Homo sapiens: one gene and its partner. The protein of the gene in region 1 interacts with the protein of each later gene in a pairwise test. Each region holds a gene or a part of one and is shown on either strand. Other genes may lie near its edges. The genes, in order: SLC15A2 and ANKS1A.

Evidence for each region.
Region 2: the proteins of SLC15A2 (region 1) and ANKS1A interact in a two-hybrid assay, tested with the Homo sapiens proteins (one large-scale study listed by BioGRID).

What each region holds. Positions count from the first base shown.
Region 1 is NC_000003.12:121,918,317-121,922,129, forward strand, and holds part of SLC15A2 (solute carrier family 15 member 2), read left to right. Parts: intron 1-3,813. UniProt on the Homo sapiens protein: Proton-coupled amino-acid transporter that transports oligopeptides of 2 to 4 amino acids with a preference for dipeptides. Transports neutral and anionic dipeptides with a proton to peptide stoichiometry of 2:1 or 3:1.
Region 2 is NC_000006.12:35,087,942-35,091,906, reverse strand, and holds the end of ANKS1A (ankyrin repeat and SAM domain-containing protein 1A), read right to left. Parts: exon of another isoform or gene 3,308-3,965; intron 3,302-3,307; coding exon 3,298-3,301; 3' UTR 501-3,297; downstream 1-500. UniProt on the Homo sapiens protein: Regulator of different signaling pathways. Regulates EPHA8 receptor tyrosine kinase signaling to control cell migration and neurite retraction.

The DNA of each region.
Region 1 (3,813 bases):
GGTTATTAACTGAGCTAGTGAGGAAAAGCCAGTTTGGGGCAATGTTGATAAATTTAGTTTTGAACATGTTGCATTTTATATGTTCTTGGAATATTTAATTGGAGTTACCAAACAGTTATTTGGAAATACAGGATTAGAGCTTAGAAGAAATGTTTGCACTATAGATATAGATCTGGAGTCATTAGTATATGGGTAGCAATAAACCATGAAATGAAGATAGATAACTAAAAGCTAGAAGAGTAAGGTTAAAAAAAAAAGTGGGGTGGGGGGATAGGTTCAAACTTCAAGAAACGCCAGGATTTAAAAGACAGGCAAAGAGGAAAAGCCCACAAATGAGACTAAGAAGGAATGGCCAAAGTGGTAATAGCGTTATCTTGGATATGAAGAAGATTTCAAGAAAAGATTCATTTAGAGTGATAAATGTTCCTGAGTGGGAGATTAAGATAAGGGTGACAGATGTCTATTAAATACAACAACAAGGAGGTCACTGATACGATTAGATCAGTTATGGTAAATGGTGGAGGCTGAAGACTGATTGGAGGAGACTGAGAAGTAAATGTTACAGGATTCCTTCAGTGCTGCTTTGTCAGCCAGAAATCTCTGTGGCCACTACCGCCTCTGTCTGGGCCTTGCTCTGGCCCACTGGGCTCGCTCAGCCTGCGACTGGACTGGGCATGTAGCGAGCAGCTTCTGTGTTGGGTGCGGCATCTAGACAAGGGGAACACGGTGGCGCCCAAAAACTCGGAGATGCTAGCAATTGCAGAGTCCTAAGAGGTGTTATAGCTCCTGCTCAGGGAGTCCCAAGGTCTGAGCCCCCAGAAATGTTACAGCTGTTCACTCCTGTAGTTCAACGAGCAGGAGCATGTTACAACTCTCTCCTGTAGTCTAGCGAGCGGGAGCGTGTTACGGCTCTTTTATTCCCGCTGCCCATAGCTTGGCGAGCTGCCCAGGGGTGTCACAGCCCTTTCATTCCCATCACCCACAGCTCAGCAAGTTCCGGGTTCTTGTCCCATGATGAAGAGGAATGGGGTGTGTGGACACCAGAGAGTGAGTAAAGCAGAGAAGAATTTTATTGAGTGGCAGAAGGAAAGCTCTGAGCTCCTAGAGGGGACCCGAAGTAGGTAGCCGTCTGTGAGGCTTAGTGTGGGTTTTTTATGGGTTTTGAATGGGGGAGTACATGCTGATTGGTCCATGGGTGGGTTTGGAAAAAGTACCACTAGATTGGTTAAAAGGCATCATCCAAAAGGAACCAATGGAGAGAGAGGATAAGACGGAGATAGAAGTTCTCACTCAGGTCATGGACTCTATCAGGAACCGGCAAGTCGGTTTTCAGGCTTTAAACTGTCTTTGGCTTGAAGGTCGGGTTTCACTGGGACCCGTCCGTGTCTGCCTAGGAATTTATCTGTCTCTTGTCACTATCAGTAAGAAAGTGAAATAGTATTTATAGTTGGAAGGTGACATGGATTCAAGAGAGGATATTGAGCATGTGTGAATATTATTAGGAATAATCCAGTGGAGAAAGAGGTTGAAGATACAAGATAAAGACAGTATAATCAGTATGAAAACACATATGAGCAAATTAGCTGCGGATAGGAGGAGGAATATCACCTTCACCTACCTGGAGGGAGGACAGGATGAGTGTGGATACAAGAATTAATAGATCTGGTGGCAGGGAGTTGAAGGAGTTTCCATTTGAAGGTTTCCATTTTCTTTGTGAAGTAAGAGGCAACATCATCTACTAGAAGGAGTAGATAGTAGAGAAATTCAAGGTTTATACTCATCTTCTTTAGTTAAGTGTCTTTGACATGTAAGTATGACTTTAGTTGATTACATAAGTCTTCCTATTATCACTCCACTGTCACTATTGCAACCAGCATTCCTGTGGTGTCCAGCCTCTTTCTAGGATCATTCTTAGTTTCAGGAGCAGTTTATTCCCTACCCAAAATTTTCCTTTGTCCAGGTATCTCTTTTTTTGTTTTTTATTTTTTACTTTTTTTGGAGACATAGTCTCACTGTGTCAGCAGGCTGGAGTGTGGTGGCGCAATCTCAGCTCACTGCAACCTCCGCCTCTGAGGTTCAAGTGATTCTCCTGCCTTAGCGCCTAAGTAGCTGGGACTACAGGTGCGCACCACCACGCCCAGCTAATTTTTGTATTTTTAGCAGAGATGGGGTTTCACCATGTTGGCCAGGTTGGTCAGCTCAATCTCTCGACCTTGTAATCCATCCGCCTTAGCCTTCCAAACTGCTAAGTTTACGGGTGTGAGCCACCGCGCCCAGCCGTCTAGGTACTTTTTTATCTGCCCACTTGACTCTCAGGATTAGCATTCCTCCACTGAACTATTTTTTCTATCAACCATGAGAAGGGTATTATAGATAAAGGATGCTATTTGGAGAAGCTTTGGGGAAATTGAGAGGATGAATGAGAAAAAGTGGTAGAGTGAATCTAAATGAGACGAATGGAGATATTAAAAAGTGATGGGAGAGAAAAGTAAAGTGATTTGTGCATTCTGATGTGTAAGGATACTGGAAAATGCTACTTGTCACTGAGAAAATCATCTTTAGCAGAGGATCTACTAGAGGGGCATCACGCTGAAGCTGGGAAATCCGTTAAGGAGGAAAGTGCATCTGGGAGGGAACCAAGATGGAGTATTTCTACTGATTTTAATTGAATGAAATTGAAAAAACCACTATTTTATAACTACAAAGGTAATACCAGCTCATTGTTAATTTGGAAAATAAAAGGAAAATTAAAGAAATGAAATTCCCTTACAATTAGCTGTGGATATGTGGTTAAAGGACAGAGATATGGGCTGAAAGAAACAGAATGAGCTCAAGAACAGAAATAGTATAGAACAGAAGTGTTTGTATAAATGATGAATAGTGTTTACAGCATAGGGTATCTCAAAAAGATAGATGAAATATAAAGTGGGAAACGGCAGGTTGAGGTGAACTCCTTTGAGGACAGGGACCTTGTTTTTTTCACCTGTGTTACCAGTAGTGTCTAGTACAGTATGTGGTGTAAGAATTAGTGAGTGAGATGCATTATAAGGATTAAATACATAGATTTTTGAGTCAGTCAAGCCTCAGGTCAAAAGTCCAGTTCTGGTATCTTCTAGCAGTGTAACCTTGTACAAGGTGCTTAATTTCCTTAATATTCCTTCATGTATAAAATAGAGATAGTGGTACATATTTTGTCAAGCTAAATCAATTAATGTATGTAAAATGCTTAACAAGTTACATGTGATAAACCTTCAAATAGATGTTAGGGATAACAATAACCATTAGGATAACAATGAATTTGGGAAGGTCTTTCATGCCAGGAGTTTGGGTCAGGTAAGTATTAATAGATCCTGGAAAGAAACATTTGGCATCAGATTAAAGAAGGAAGAGACTAGGGAATGAGAAACTAGTTGGTGGCCATTTTAATAATCCAAAGTACAAGTTGTGAAGTCCTGAACAAGAGTGGTAGCAGTAGTAAAGTGAAAGAGGGGGCAAATAGGCAATACGTTAAAGAAAGAGGACCAATAAAACTTGGTAACATTTCAGATATGGAGATGGAGAAAGAAGAGTAAGAAGTCAAAGATGACTTCCACTTCTGTGATTACATGAAAGTCTCAATAGATATCTCTCTTAACAACATACCATTTTGTCTTCTCTTGGCTCCTGCAATTTTGATAACTCCAAAAGTCAGGAAATGTAAGTCAGCTCCCTCTTTATGAGATTTGCCAGCCACTCCCACAGTTCAGCATTCTGTCCTTAGCGCTGATATACTGAATGTGCTATTTAGGTTTGTGCAAAAGTTATTGTGGTTTT
Region 2 (3,965 bases), on another chromosome or scaffold:
TGGGAACACTTTGCCCTCTGCATCCCTACCATAGCACGGCTTCGGGCTGGTAGCTAGTTGTTTATGTCTAAAACTTAACCTCTGCAATCCAAGCAAGTTCCTGAAAGGAGAGCACTTTCTTTCACAGCTCTAGATCCCCCAGGCTGCCTGGGAGGCAGATGTTCGGTTCATGTCTATGGGTGGACAAGCCCAGACCAAGAGGCAGAAGAGATGCCACTGCAGCAGTAACTAGAATGTGGCCCTGGCTTGGTGTTCACAGAACGATGTTCCTAAGGAGGGGAAGGTGAATCCTGGGGCCCTTGCGCCTCACAGCACAGCTGTAACTAACTGTTTGTTAGAGAGTGCGAGACAGAAAGCCAAACAGCCAAGCTGTCGTCATCTCAGCCAAACGGTGTAGGATGCGAATCACTGATCCTGAGCCTGCGTCTCGCCTGTGCCCACGCCTCTGCCAGAAAACCATCAAGACGCTTTCCAATTCAAAGACTCAGAAGAATTAAGGCTGCGTTCATGTCGCTTCTCATTTATTAATTCAGTCTGTTCTAAGTTGTGTACAGTTATGAAAATAACAAAACCAAAGCTGGAAGCCCAGAAATATTTACACTCTCTTGGGTACTGAGGTCAGTCTATGTTGTTGCACAGATTGGTTATGTTTGGTACCTCAAAGTGTTTATAATTCAGACAAAATCAGACAGATTAACAATTTTATATACAGTAAAACAAAAGGGAAAGTCATTCAAGTATCAAAATACAGAGACAAAGATTAAATAACATTTTCATTACAGTTCAGTCCATTGCCACACCATGAGCAACAATACTTCTGAGCTGCTTTCTGCTGGCCTGGGCATCTCAAAGACAGACCCAATTCAGACTGGTTTTCTAATGTCTCTGACTGCAGCTCTGCCTGCTCCCTGCTCAAACCCGAGCATCTCGGGAACTCCCATTAGTGTCTGACGCTGGAGGGCCCAGGAGGGACGCAGAGAGCTGCACACGCAGAGCCTGTCGGGAAGGTCTTATGCGCTGAGCAGCTGGTGGGCAGGGGAGAAGAGGTGGACAAGAAGCCTGTGGCTGGGACAGGTACTGAGCCCATCTGAAGTCTCCCACCCGAATGGGCTCCTTCACAGTTCAGAAACGCAGCGACAGGGTCTGCCCCTGGTGTGACCTGCACTTGGAGAAGTGCAAAAGTAGGGGCCTTCCCACTTGAAGCCTGTCCTTAAAGTTATAATAACCTTTCTAGGAAAGGGAGACTACCCATCCCAGAGGAGAAGAAAAGAAAGAAAGGCCCAGTCATTTTCCTTTCTTGAATATTCAGAAATAAACCAATCTCTAAACAGAACCCAGAGCTAGAGCAGACTAGCCAAGGCTTCCAATATGAAAATACCCTGAATAAATAAAGATGATATAGCAGCTTCAAGCAGAAGAAACACCTATGGATGATCTAAGCACAAAAGACAGCTTGAGGAGTGCATCGTAGTGTCTGCGGTTTCTTTCGGACCTACCGCCCCGCCCCCGACAGAGGCCCACTTGGATGTGGCCTGGCCCCTTAGGAGGAAGACGGGCACCAGCATGTGCGCAGTGGCAGCGCAGTCTACTCTGGATGCTTTAGGGTTCCTGGTCAACTCTTGGAAGAAAGCCGGGGCCGAGAACTGTACAGCGGTAGCTCATGGGCATCCTCACAGGCCCTGAAAGGGGCAGGAAATGAAGTAAAACTGCAAGGTGTCGAGATCTTCGTTTAGTACCAAGAAGTGGAGGAGGGCCTGCCTCTACCGCAGAGAGAGCTGAGTCCCAGGCCCCAACCTGCTGGGTGCTTAGCAGATAGAAACCCACAAGGCCTGGCCTCTAGCCAGTCAGAGACACAGCCCCACTTCTGATTTCTGGCCAACCACATGGGTTAAGAATGTGCCTAACAGTACTCCCTGCACATACATACCAACAAAGAATTCAAATTCACAGCCTTTGCTGGCTGGGAAAGAGGAGTGTTGCTGAAGCCTGGATTATTCATCCTGGGACCTGATTGACCTATGCCAGGAAAGCTCGGAGCCTGCTAAAGTGCCCACAGGAGGAACTGGGCACACAGCTGAGCCAACTTTGCCTCTCAAATCCACAGCAGTTTCCCCTGCATTTCTACTCTAGTCCAGAGGGAAGAATGCAACCCAAGTTACTTTTAAAAACAAAGCGAGCAGCAGGAAAGCTTAAGAAGCAGAGGCGCACCGGGATGCCAGCCTGCCCCAAAGGCCACGCGGGGGAGCATCGATGCACTGTCACCTTATTTAGCCTTTTCCACACCGGGGGCCAGGGATGGGCCCAGCAGCCAAGTGTAACCGTCAAACCGATAATTCAGAGAATCAAAATGAGCCCCAATCACACAGGCTGATTAGACAAATCACAAATTGGCAAGTAGCAACCTTAGCTGACCCCACTCCAAGCATTAATGCCCCAAACAAAGCTGCTTTTCCTATTCTCTGACACAACGCAGGCAGTACGGCGCCGGCCAGCCCAGGGCAGTGCTCCGATCACTGACAGGTAAGAGGCCAGGGAGAGGCCTGGCGCTCTGGTGCTGGCTAAGACTTCCCAGCACTAGAAACTGCACACTTATCTTCATTTGGCCACTGAACCTTCCCATCGGGAACCCCAGAAATGGACCGGAAACCTTTGAGTTGCTCAGGTGCCTCTAAGGCTGTGTTCTTACGAGAAGCCTGTGTCTAGCCCCTGAAAGGGACAGGAAGTTGGGCAGTTCATAAAGAGCAGCAGCTGATATGGTTGGGTTTGAAAAGCAGACGCACCGTACTCAATTCTGCCTGAGCCTGCTCCGTTCCCCTCACCCACAGGCCACCGCCTTCTCTTCCGACCCACTGAGCTGCACCCAAGTTCCGTCCTGAGGACAGAGGCTATGCAGGCTGGCCTCTGAACCAACCTCAGCTCCCCTGTCCTCTGCCCCATGGCCATTTGTCTAAAGATTGGCAGTATGACCTAGAGGTTTGAGCCAAGTGTTAAAAGTTCATTTTATAAAAAGATTTTTTTTCTGTTAAAAACAATGTGTTCTGAACAAGTCACTTCTTGACCCTCTGGAATGCCAGTCCCATCTGCTAGCGGCCTGGAGTGCTTCTCCACAGCCAAGGCAGGGCTCGTTCTGCAGGACGTGGTGGTGGCAGGCCCAGGCCAAGTGGCCAAGAGGAGGTCCTGCAGGCGGAGGTGAGGCCTGGGTCTTCAGAGCTGCAGGTGAGGCGATGGCGGTGGTGGCAGTGGGAGCCTATGCCCCCACGTCTATGTTTCCGCAGCACAGTGTGGTTCCTCAGTGGCTCAGCTTGGCAGAAGCAAACAATGGGGGGAGGAAAGGGTTAACCAATGGGGCCTGCGGACGGTGGAGGAAATGGAAAGGAAACACAGAGCAGGACAGACGATCCCTCACAGCCTCCCCGGGGCACCCTCCATGCCTGCTTTGAGCACCCACAGCCTGCAGCCCCCACTGCCTCTGGCTCAGTGACTCTGCTCAGGAAGGCACAAGGATGGGTGGGTACGCAGGACCCACCCAGTTTATCGACTTGGGTTTTGACTGCCCTGGCCGACTGGCTTTCCTAGTGGACTCTGCTATGTGTGCACGGCTGCCTATGGGCGCCGCTTCCTTCCTGTCTCCTGCCATCCAAACTGATTTGCCCACACTGGAGAATGGGGTGCCTCTTCAAAGACTCAGCTCCACCATCCCAGCTTCTGAGCTGCTGCGATGGGACGGCCTCTCCTTTCGGAGGAGTCAGGAGGCTGAGGGAGGTGGTCAGGGGCATGCTGGACGGCGCTGTCTATCTGTGATCCCCCACCGTGGAGAGTGTCAGAAAGCTCCCAGAGGACAATGGAGGCCACTTGGTCCAGGTCCCTGTCCTCCAGCAGCTCTGTTCTGTGAGGGAAGAAGGTGCGCCGTGTGTGCAGGGCACAGGCCGCCTCCTCGTTGGTTCTACGGAAGGCCTTCCTCCTCA